Regions from separate parts of the Homo sapiens genome. Here regions 2 and 3 are each linked to region 1. Evidence: fine-mapped expression QTL. A gene starts in region 1. Each other region holds a variant in brackets. All regions are shown on one strand. Distances are from middle to middle.

Region 1 (2,756 bases):
ACTGAAGAAAGTAAATGACATTCGGCCAGGCGCGGTGGCTCACGCCTGTAATCCCAGCACTTTGGGAGGCCGAGGCGGGCGGATCACGAGGTCAGGAGATCGAGACCATCCTGGCTAACACAGTGAAACCCTGTCTCTACTAAAAATACAAAAAATTAGCCGGGTGTGGTGGCGGGCACCTGTAGTCCCAGCTACTAGGGAGGCTGGGGCAGAAAAATGGCGTGAACCTGGGAGGTGGAGCTTGCAGTGAGCCGAGATCACGCCACTGCACTCCAGCCTGGGCGACAGAGTGAGACTCCATCTCAAAAAAAAAAAAAAAAGAAAAAGTAAATGACATTCTTTGGTAGGTACTTGTAGGCCTGAGAGGTCAGGAAAATTTTTCTAAGGAGTCCCCAGCTACGATTTTTAATTCAAAGAATCTCCAGCCATGCAAATCTGCAGGCTCGCAGTTCTTTCCACCTGCCCTTCCCCCAAGAACACTCAGCCCCATTTCACTGGACTTTGAAGGTTCCTACACTGACTTCGTATTTCTCCCCATGTAAATCTCATGCAGGGGCCACTTGCCACCCCTGGGAAGCCAACCTTCATCATCCAGTTCACGTTATCTTCCTCCTGCCATTTATCTTGCCTCCACTGAGTTTTAATTCCAGGCTCCACTTCCTGTGATTGTAAACATATCCCTTCATCCCTATGTCTCCATTTGACCAGTCAGCTACCAAATGTCGGAAACAATGCCTTGCCCACCTCTCCTATTTGGTGGAAGATTAGGACAGTCGTGTATGTTACTTGGTAAGCAGTACACTGAGTCACTGTAGCAAACGCTTGTTAATTGGCTTATCGGTCCTGGCTCCACCACGCTGGTTTCCAGTCCCACAAAACTGGGTAGGCCAACTAGTTTTAGCGTTTGGCTACATTCATGGAATATGAGAGCTAGGATTAGCTCCAAAAATCACGTGCTCCCCTCCCTCCGTGTAGAGAGGCACCTTTTAAAACGAAGGACCCAGTTCCCCATCCCGGATCTCCAGACCTTCCACCCTCGCGGGTGCGCGCTAGCCCCAGGCCCCTCTACCAGCCCCCGGAGCAGCGAACGCAGCACGCGCGCGCCTCTCCCGCGCTGGGCCGGAGCAGGCAGCCTGCCAGCTGGTCCCGGCGTGCCGCGCGCCGCGCACGTGACCCCGCCCCCTGCCATTGGTCCGGGCGCGAGGGGCGGAGCCGCCGCGGAGCAAGCGAGCCAAGCGCGGCCTCATTAGACCACGGGTTGCAGCCGGAGCGGCTGGGAGGTTCGCGCGTTTCTCAGGGTTCGGTCGGAGGCGGGGAGGCCGGAGCTGCGGGCGTAGGGACCTGGCGGCTCCTGAAGCGCACGCGGGCGGGCGGCAGGTGTGCGCGGCATCCCTGTCACGTGGCCGAAGAGCCTGGGGCGCGCGGACCCTGGCAGGGGGCGGGGCGCACGCAGGCCACACCCACTTCAGGCTCCCACCCGGTCGCTGGAGAGGGGCCAAGGCCTCTGGAAGGTCCAACCTGGAGGGTGGTTCAAAGGGGTGTTGGGCACCCTCAAATTAGGGGAAAATTGGGGAGTACGCTCTCCTTCCCCAGGGTGGAGGTTACTACAATCATAAGCGGGGAGCCGGTGCCCCTGAGGAAGGAGACCCTGAGGGAGATAAGATGGAGGGGCTCGGGATTCCGGGGAGCCCCAAGTCCCAGCTTGAAACGGTGGAGTCCGGGCAAATGAGCTCTGAGGACGGCTTCTGGGCCTGGCCGTGACCCAGATTGCAGTGAGAGTTCCCGCAGGCCCCGCCTCTTTCTGGGCCTCGTGTCTCCCAGCCGCCGGGCCGGGTGCGAGGCCTTACCCCTCTGATCTGCTGCAGGATGGGCCTCTCCGCTGCGGCCCCGTTGTGGGGTCCCCCGGGGCTGCTCCTGGCCATCGCCCTGCACCCAGCGCTGTCGGTGCCCCCGCGCCGGGACTACTGCGTGCTGGGCGCTGGGCCCGCGGGCCTGCAGATGGCCTACTTCCTGCAGCGCGCTGGACGCGACTACGCAGTGTTCGAGCGGGCCCCGCGGCCCGGCAGCTTCTTCACACGCTACCCGCGGCACCGCAAGCTCATCAGCATCAACAAGCGGTACACGGGCAAGGCTAACGCCGAGTTCAACCTCCGCCACGACTGGAACTCTCTGCTCAGCCACGACCCCCGGCTGCTCTTCAGACACTACTCGCGTGCCTACTTCCCCGACGCCCGCGACATGGTGCGCTACCTGGGTGACTTCGCGGACACGCTGGGGCTCCGTGTCCAGTACAACACCACCATCGCCCACGTCACTCTGGACAAGGACCGACAGGCCTGGAATGGCCACTACTTCATCCTAACTGACCAGAAGGGCCAGGTGCATCAGTGCAGGTAAGGCCGGTGCCAGAGCTCACCTGCGGAAGCTGGGACCTTCCCCACACGAACCACACACCTTGATTGGCCAGTAGGTATGGGAGGAATGGACGAAAAAGGGTATTTCGCTTTTTTTTTTTTTTAAGACGGAGTCTCACTCTGTCGCCCAGGCTGGAGTGCAATGGCACGAGGTCAGCTCACTGCAACCTCCGCCTCTCTAGTTCAAGCGATTCTCCTGCCTCAGCCTCCCCAGTAGCTGGGATTACAGGCAAGCACCACCACACCCGGCTAATTTTTTTATATTTTTGGTGGAGATGAGATTTCACGACGTTGGCCAGGCTGGTCTCGAACTCCTGACCTCAGGAGATCCACCCACCTCAG
Region 2 (2,756 bases), 28 kb after region 1:
CCTTTCAGTGCTATCTGAGTTTGCTTTAGAGATATTTAAGTCCCTCTGGCCTTCTGAATTTTAGCCTGGGCTTTTTCATTTCTAGATCTTTGGGGCCTGGCTAGACACCCAACTACACAAAAGCTGGACAAAGCCCTCTGAATGAGGCATCCTGGGAGAAACCAGTGTAGCATAAGTTAAAAATTCAGGGGCCTTCAGGTCGGACGCAGTGGCTCACACCTGTAATCCCAGCACTTTCAGAGGCCGAGGCAGGTGGATTACCTGAGGTCAGGAGTTTGAGACCTGCCCAGCCAACATAGTGAAACCCCATCTCTACCAAAAATACAAAAATTAATCGGGCGTGGTGGCGGGCACCTGTAATCCCAGCTACCCAAGAGGCTGAGGCAGGAGAATCGCTTGAACCTGGGAGGTGGAGGTTGCAGTGAGCTGAGATCGCGCCATTGCACTCCAGCCTGGGTGACAGAGGGAAACTCCATCTCAAAAAAAAAAAAAAAGAAAAAGAAATTGAAGGGCCTTCTGGTCAGGTCTCTGACAGATTGTTTCGCTGGCTTTCCAGTTGTTTCTCTGACTCACCCTGTGGCCTTGGGCAGGCCACTTGATATCTTTGTGCTCCCTTTCTTCACTTGTAATAGGAGATAAGGTCTTGCACACTGGGTTTTTCAGTGTTATGAGTTGTTTTTGTTTTTCTTCTTTTAGAGACAAGGTCTCACTCTGTCACCCAGGCTAGAATGTAGAGTGCAGTGGTGCGATCACGGCTCACTGCAGTCTCTACCTCCTGATCTCAAGCAATCCTCCCACCTTGGCCTCCCAAAGTGCTAGGATTACAGGCATGAACCACTGCGCCAGGCCTGAGGGTTTTTTTTCCTTTTTTGTTTTTGAGACAGAGTCTCATTCTGTCACCCAGGCTGGACTGCAGTGGTTCAGTCAGCTCACTGCAACCTCCACCTCCCGAGTTAAAACAATTTTCCTGCCTCAGCCTCCCAAGTAGTTGGGACTACCACCCAGATAATTTTTTTGTATTTTTAGTAGAGACGGGGTTTCACCATATTGGCCAGGCTAGTCTCTCAAACTCCTGACCACAGGTGATTCTCTCCCGCCTTGGCCTCCCAGAGTGCTAGGATTACAGGTGTGAGCCATTATGCCCGGCCTATTTTTCAGCATTTAAAACCGTCAGGCCTGGCTGGGTGCGGTGTGCACCACCACACCTGCTACTCAGGAGGCTGAGGCAGGAGAATTGCTTGAACCCGGGAGGCGGAAGTTGCAGTGAGCCGAGATC[G/A]CGCCATTGCACTCCAGCCTGGGCAACAGAGTGAGACTCCATCTCAAAAATAAATAAGTAAGTGCTGAGAATAAAATAGGAGTTGTCAGCCAGGGGTTTGTGAAAGGTGGAACTGTCTTGGCCTCCTGGTGTAGTGAGCATTCCAGAGAGGCCTTCCGAAATGAACAATAAATGGGATAATGCCTCATTTTGTTCAGTAAGGAAGTGGGGTGGTGTGAGTTGTTCATTCAGTGCCAGGCACTTTCCTTGGTGCCACATACATAGAGATGACAGCACCAGGCCTGTCCTGGATGAGCTTCCCCAGCGAGAGGGGAATACCTATGATCAGGGCAGTGATAATGGTCAACTCAGGGGCTGTGGGATCAGAGTAGCCTGTGGGTGAAATAAAACACTTTCTCTTTTTTTTTTTTTTTTTTTTTTGAGACAGAGTCTCTGTCGCCCAGGCTGGAGTGCAGTGGCACAATCTCAGCTCACTTCAACCTCTGCCTCCCAGGTTAAAGTGATTCTCCTGCCTCAGCCTTCCTAGAAGCTGGGATTACAGGCGCACACCACCACTCCTGGCTAATCTTTGTATTTTTAGTAGAGACGAGGTTTTACCATGTTGGCCAGGCTGATCTTGAACTCCTGACCTCAGGTGATCCGCCTGCCTCGGCCTCCCAAAGTGCTGGAATTATAGGCGTGGGTCACCGCACCCGGCCAAAGAAAACACTTTCAACACAGCTTTGGGTTGTGATCGATCCCAGCTGTGCTTCTCTAATCTTGCACAGGTTTCTTAACTCGTATGGGCTTCAGTTTCTTTGGAAGGTGTGTTCTCTTTGCAGAGTTGAGGGGTGTGTTTGGTAAAAGCAGAGAAAGTGAGCCAGGGACTGGTGCGTTGTAGACGCTCCAGGCCATTGGTTCCCCTCCTTTTAGTTCTGAGTCCACATGGTGTTTGAAATATCCCCACAGCTTCCAATGCATGTTTACCCACATTGCCTTAGTTGATCTCTCCTAATAGCTTTGAGAGCCATAATCTCTCTTTTTCAGATGAAGAAACTAGGGCCCAGGCCGGGCGCGGTGGCTCATGCCTGTAATCCCAGCACTTTGGGAGGCCGAGACAGGCGGATCACGAGGTCAGGAGATCGAGACCATCCTGGCTAACACGGTGAAACCCCGTCTCTACTAAAAAATACAAAAAATTAGCTGGGCGTGTTGGCAGGCACCTGTAGTCCCAGCTACTGAGGAAGCTGAGGCAGGAGAATGGCGTAAACCAGGGAGGCGGAGCTTGCAGTGAGCCGAGATCGCGCCACTGCACTCCAGCCTGGGGGATAGAGCGAGACTCCGTCTCAAAAAAAGAAAAAAAGGAAACTAGGGCCCCAGAATAATCAGCTGGTTGGTGAGAAGCCTCTGTTTGAACCTTTTAACTTCCAATCCCATATCCTTTTATATGACAGTATATTTATCTGAGATATACTGAAATGAGTCACTTTTATTATGAGTC
Region 3 (2,756 bases), 47 kb after region 1:
GCCACAAGGCCCAGCTAATTTTTGTATTTTTAGTAGAGACAGGGTTTCACCATGTTGGCCAGGCCGGTCTCAAACTCCTAACCTCAAGTGATCCACCCACTTTGGCCTTCCAAAGTGCTGGGATTACAGGTGTGAGCCACCTTGCCGGGCCAAGAAGAGTTTTGAAGAATCGACTGGGACTCGTCCTGAGAGGCAAGTGGTGGGAAGGGTATTCCAGGCAGAAGGGAGAGCGTATGCACAGCACAGAGGCAGGAAAGTCCATGGTCCATCCCAGGAGGAGGCTTTGGTGGGGCCTTGGAGTCACACAGTCCTGGCTCCAGTCACAGCCCTCTCCGTCACTAGCCAAGCCTCAGTTTCCTTCATCTCTGAAATGGGAGGACAGGACCCTCCTCATGGTTATGAGATCGTAAATGTAATGTCAGAACACAATGCAATTACGTGGTAAGCGCCCTATTAAACGCTTCTCTTATTGTGTGTTAGTAATGTGTATTAGTTTGCTAGGCCAGCCATCACAAAATATCACAGACTGGGTGGTTTAAACAACAGATGTTTATTTTTTCACAGTTCTGGGGCTGGAAGTCCAAAATCAAGGTGCTGGCAGGGTTGGTTTCTCCTGAAGCCTCTCTGCTTGGCTTGCGGGTGGCCACCTTCTTGCTGGGTCCTCACATGGATTTTCCTCTGGGCACACACATCCCCCAAGTCTCTCTCTCCTTTTTTTTGTTTTGTTTTGTTTTGAGACGGAGTCTCGCTCTGTCACCTATTACCCAGGCTGGAGCACAGTGGCACAATCTCGGCCCACTGCAACCTCTGCCTCCTGGGTTCAAGCGATTCTCCTGCCTCAGCCTCCTGAGTAGCTGGGACTACAGGCACCTGCCACTACACCTGGCTAATTTTTGTATTTTTAGTAGAGACGGGGTTTCACCATGTTGGCCAGGCTGGTCTCTAACTCCTGACCTCAGGTGATCCACCTGCCTTGGTCTCCCAAAATGCTGGGATTACAGGCATAAGCCACCATGCCCAGCCCAGTGCCAGTTTATGGAGGGGGACATGGAGGTACAGAGGGCTTTGGGTTATGACTCAAGGTCACACAGCTAGGAAGGAGCAGACAGGATTTAAACCTAGACAGTCTGACTCTGGGGTCCCTGCTCCTCTCCCCATGCCCTCTCCACCCTCCCACACACACAGCAGGAGCTCCCTGCACTCCACAAACACCCTTTTGCATGTCACTCAGCTCCGGTCAAACTGTTAACTTCTCCCCCATTGTCGGATACTAAGGAATTTTTCAGTTAATATTTTTCCATTATAAATGAGGTTGGAACAAACCTGTTTGAACATAAGAGCTTATTTCTTCTTTTGGATTTTATACAAGTGGGATTTCCAGGGCAAAGGGAGCATTTTATTGTCCCCGAGAGCGGGGAAGGAGTGAAACCCGAGCTGGGCCCCGCCTGCACTGCCCACCTGCCGGTTTACTTTGTGGGAGGGGAGGCTCGGCAGTAGGGATGTCCTGAGACTTGGCTCGGCACTGCCCCACCTCCAGCCACCTCTTTGTCTCTGCCGCCTCTGCCTTAGAAAGTTCCGGGCCCCAGCCAGGCACGGTGGCTCACGCCTGTAATCCCAGCACTTTGGGAGGCCGAGGTGAGCAGATCACGAGGTCAGGAGATGGAGACCATCCTGGCTAACACGGTGAAACCCCATCTCTACTAAAAATACAAAAAATTAGCCAGGC[G/A]TGGTGGCGGGAGGCTGAGGCAGGAGAATGGCGTGAACCCGGGAGGCGGAGCTTGCAGTAAGCCTAGATCGCGCCACTGTACTCCAGCCTGGGTGACAGAGCAAGACTCTGTCTCCCCAAAAAATCCAAAACAAAACAAAATAAGACAAAGAAAGTTCCAGGCCCCAAATCCTGGTTTTTCTGAGATTCTGAGTTCAAAATAATGGTTCCTATAAGGATATGGTCATTTTTTATTTTATTTTTGAGATGGAGTCTCACTCTGTTACCCAGGCTGGAGTGCAGTGGCAGGATCTCAGCTCACTGCAACCTCCACCTCCCAGGTTCATGTGATTCCCCTACCTCTCAGCCTCCTGAGTAGCTGGGATTACAGGCACCTGCCACCACGCCCGGCTAATTTTTGTATTTTTAGTAGACACAGGGTTTCACCATGTTGGTCAGGCTGGTCTGGAACTCCTGACCTCAGGTGATCCTCCCACCTCGGCCTCCCAAAGTACTGGGATTATAGGTGTGAGCCACTGCGCCCAGCCTGGTTTCCCATATGATTTCCCCTATTAGTAGTTCCCATCTCGAAGGGTCCCTATGATGTTGAGATAGGGAAGGAAGCTAGCAAGTTTGGAGCAGGAGAGGGAAATGGAAGCCCAGAGAGGGCAGGGGCCTTGCCTGGGCTCAGCCAGCAGCGAGAGCAGAGAATCCCAAGGTGGCCCTGAGCTCCCACTACCAGTCCTCGGTTTGCTCTTGACTGAGGCTGGCAGTGAGGTTGAGGGAGAGAAAATTATTTCTCAAAGTGGTGGTTGGGGAGTGACAGGAAGCAGTTCCCTTAGGGAGTCTCTTTCCCAAGGGTCAAATCCCTGGATCTTGGAAAGCTCGTTGTTTCACATCTGCACTTAGTTGCCCGACTGGGGACCCCATGCAGCCTGGGAATGACCGTGAAATGGCTGCCCAGTGGGCAGGGTGTTTGCTCTGCACTTGGCCCTGACCACTGAGCCACAGCCAGGCCGGCTGCAGGGCTGCAGCTCTCAGCCCACAAGAA

What was found. PIP is the estimated chance that this variant, and not a neighbour inherited with it, causes the effect.
Region 2: its variant is fine-mapped to the expression of FOXRED2 in sigmoid colon (GTEx, PIP above 0.99).
Region 3: its variant is fine-mapped to the expression of FOXRED2 in whole blood (INTERVAL, PIP 0.97).

Annotation. Positions count from the first base shown.
Region 1 is chr22:36,505,533-36,508,288 of GRCh38, reverse strand. FOXRED2 (FAD dependent oxidoreductase domain containing 2) reads left to right here and starts at 1,249. Exons shown (of 9, transcript NM_001102371.2): 1 at 1,249-1,280; 2 at 1,866-2,393. The coding sequence starts at 1,867. RefSeq lists a silencer at 1,003-1,502.
Region 2 is chr22:36,477,073-36,479,828 of GRCh38, reverse strand. The region is part of intron 2 of TXN2 (thioredoxin 2); the gene reads left to right. Among named protein-coding and RNA genes, the nearest start is that of TXN2, 3.2 kb to the left of the region's middle. The variant G/A (reference allele first, on the strand shown) is at 1,277.
Region 3 is chr22:36,458,245-36,461,000 of GRCh38, reverse strand. No RefSeq gene overlaps it. Among named protein-coding and RNA genes, the nearest start is that of TXN2, 22 kb to the left of the region's middle. The variant G/A (reference allele first, on the strand shown) is at 1,727.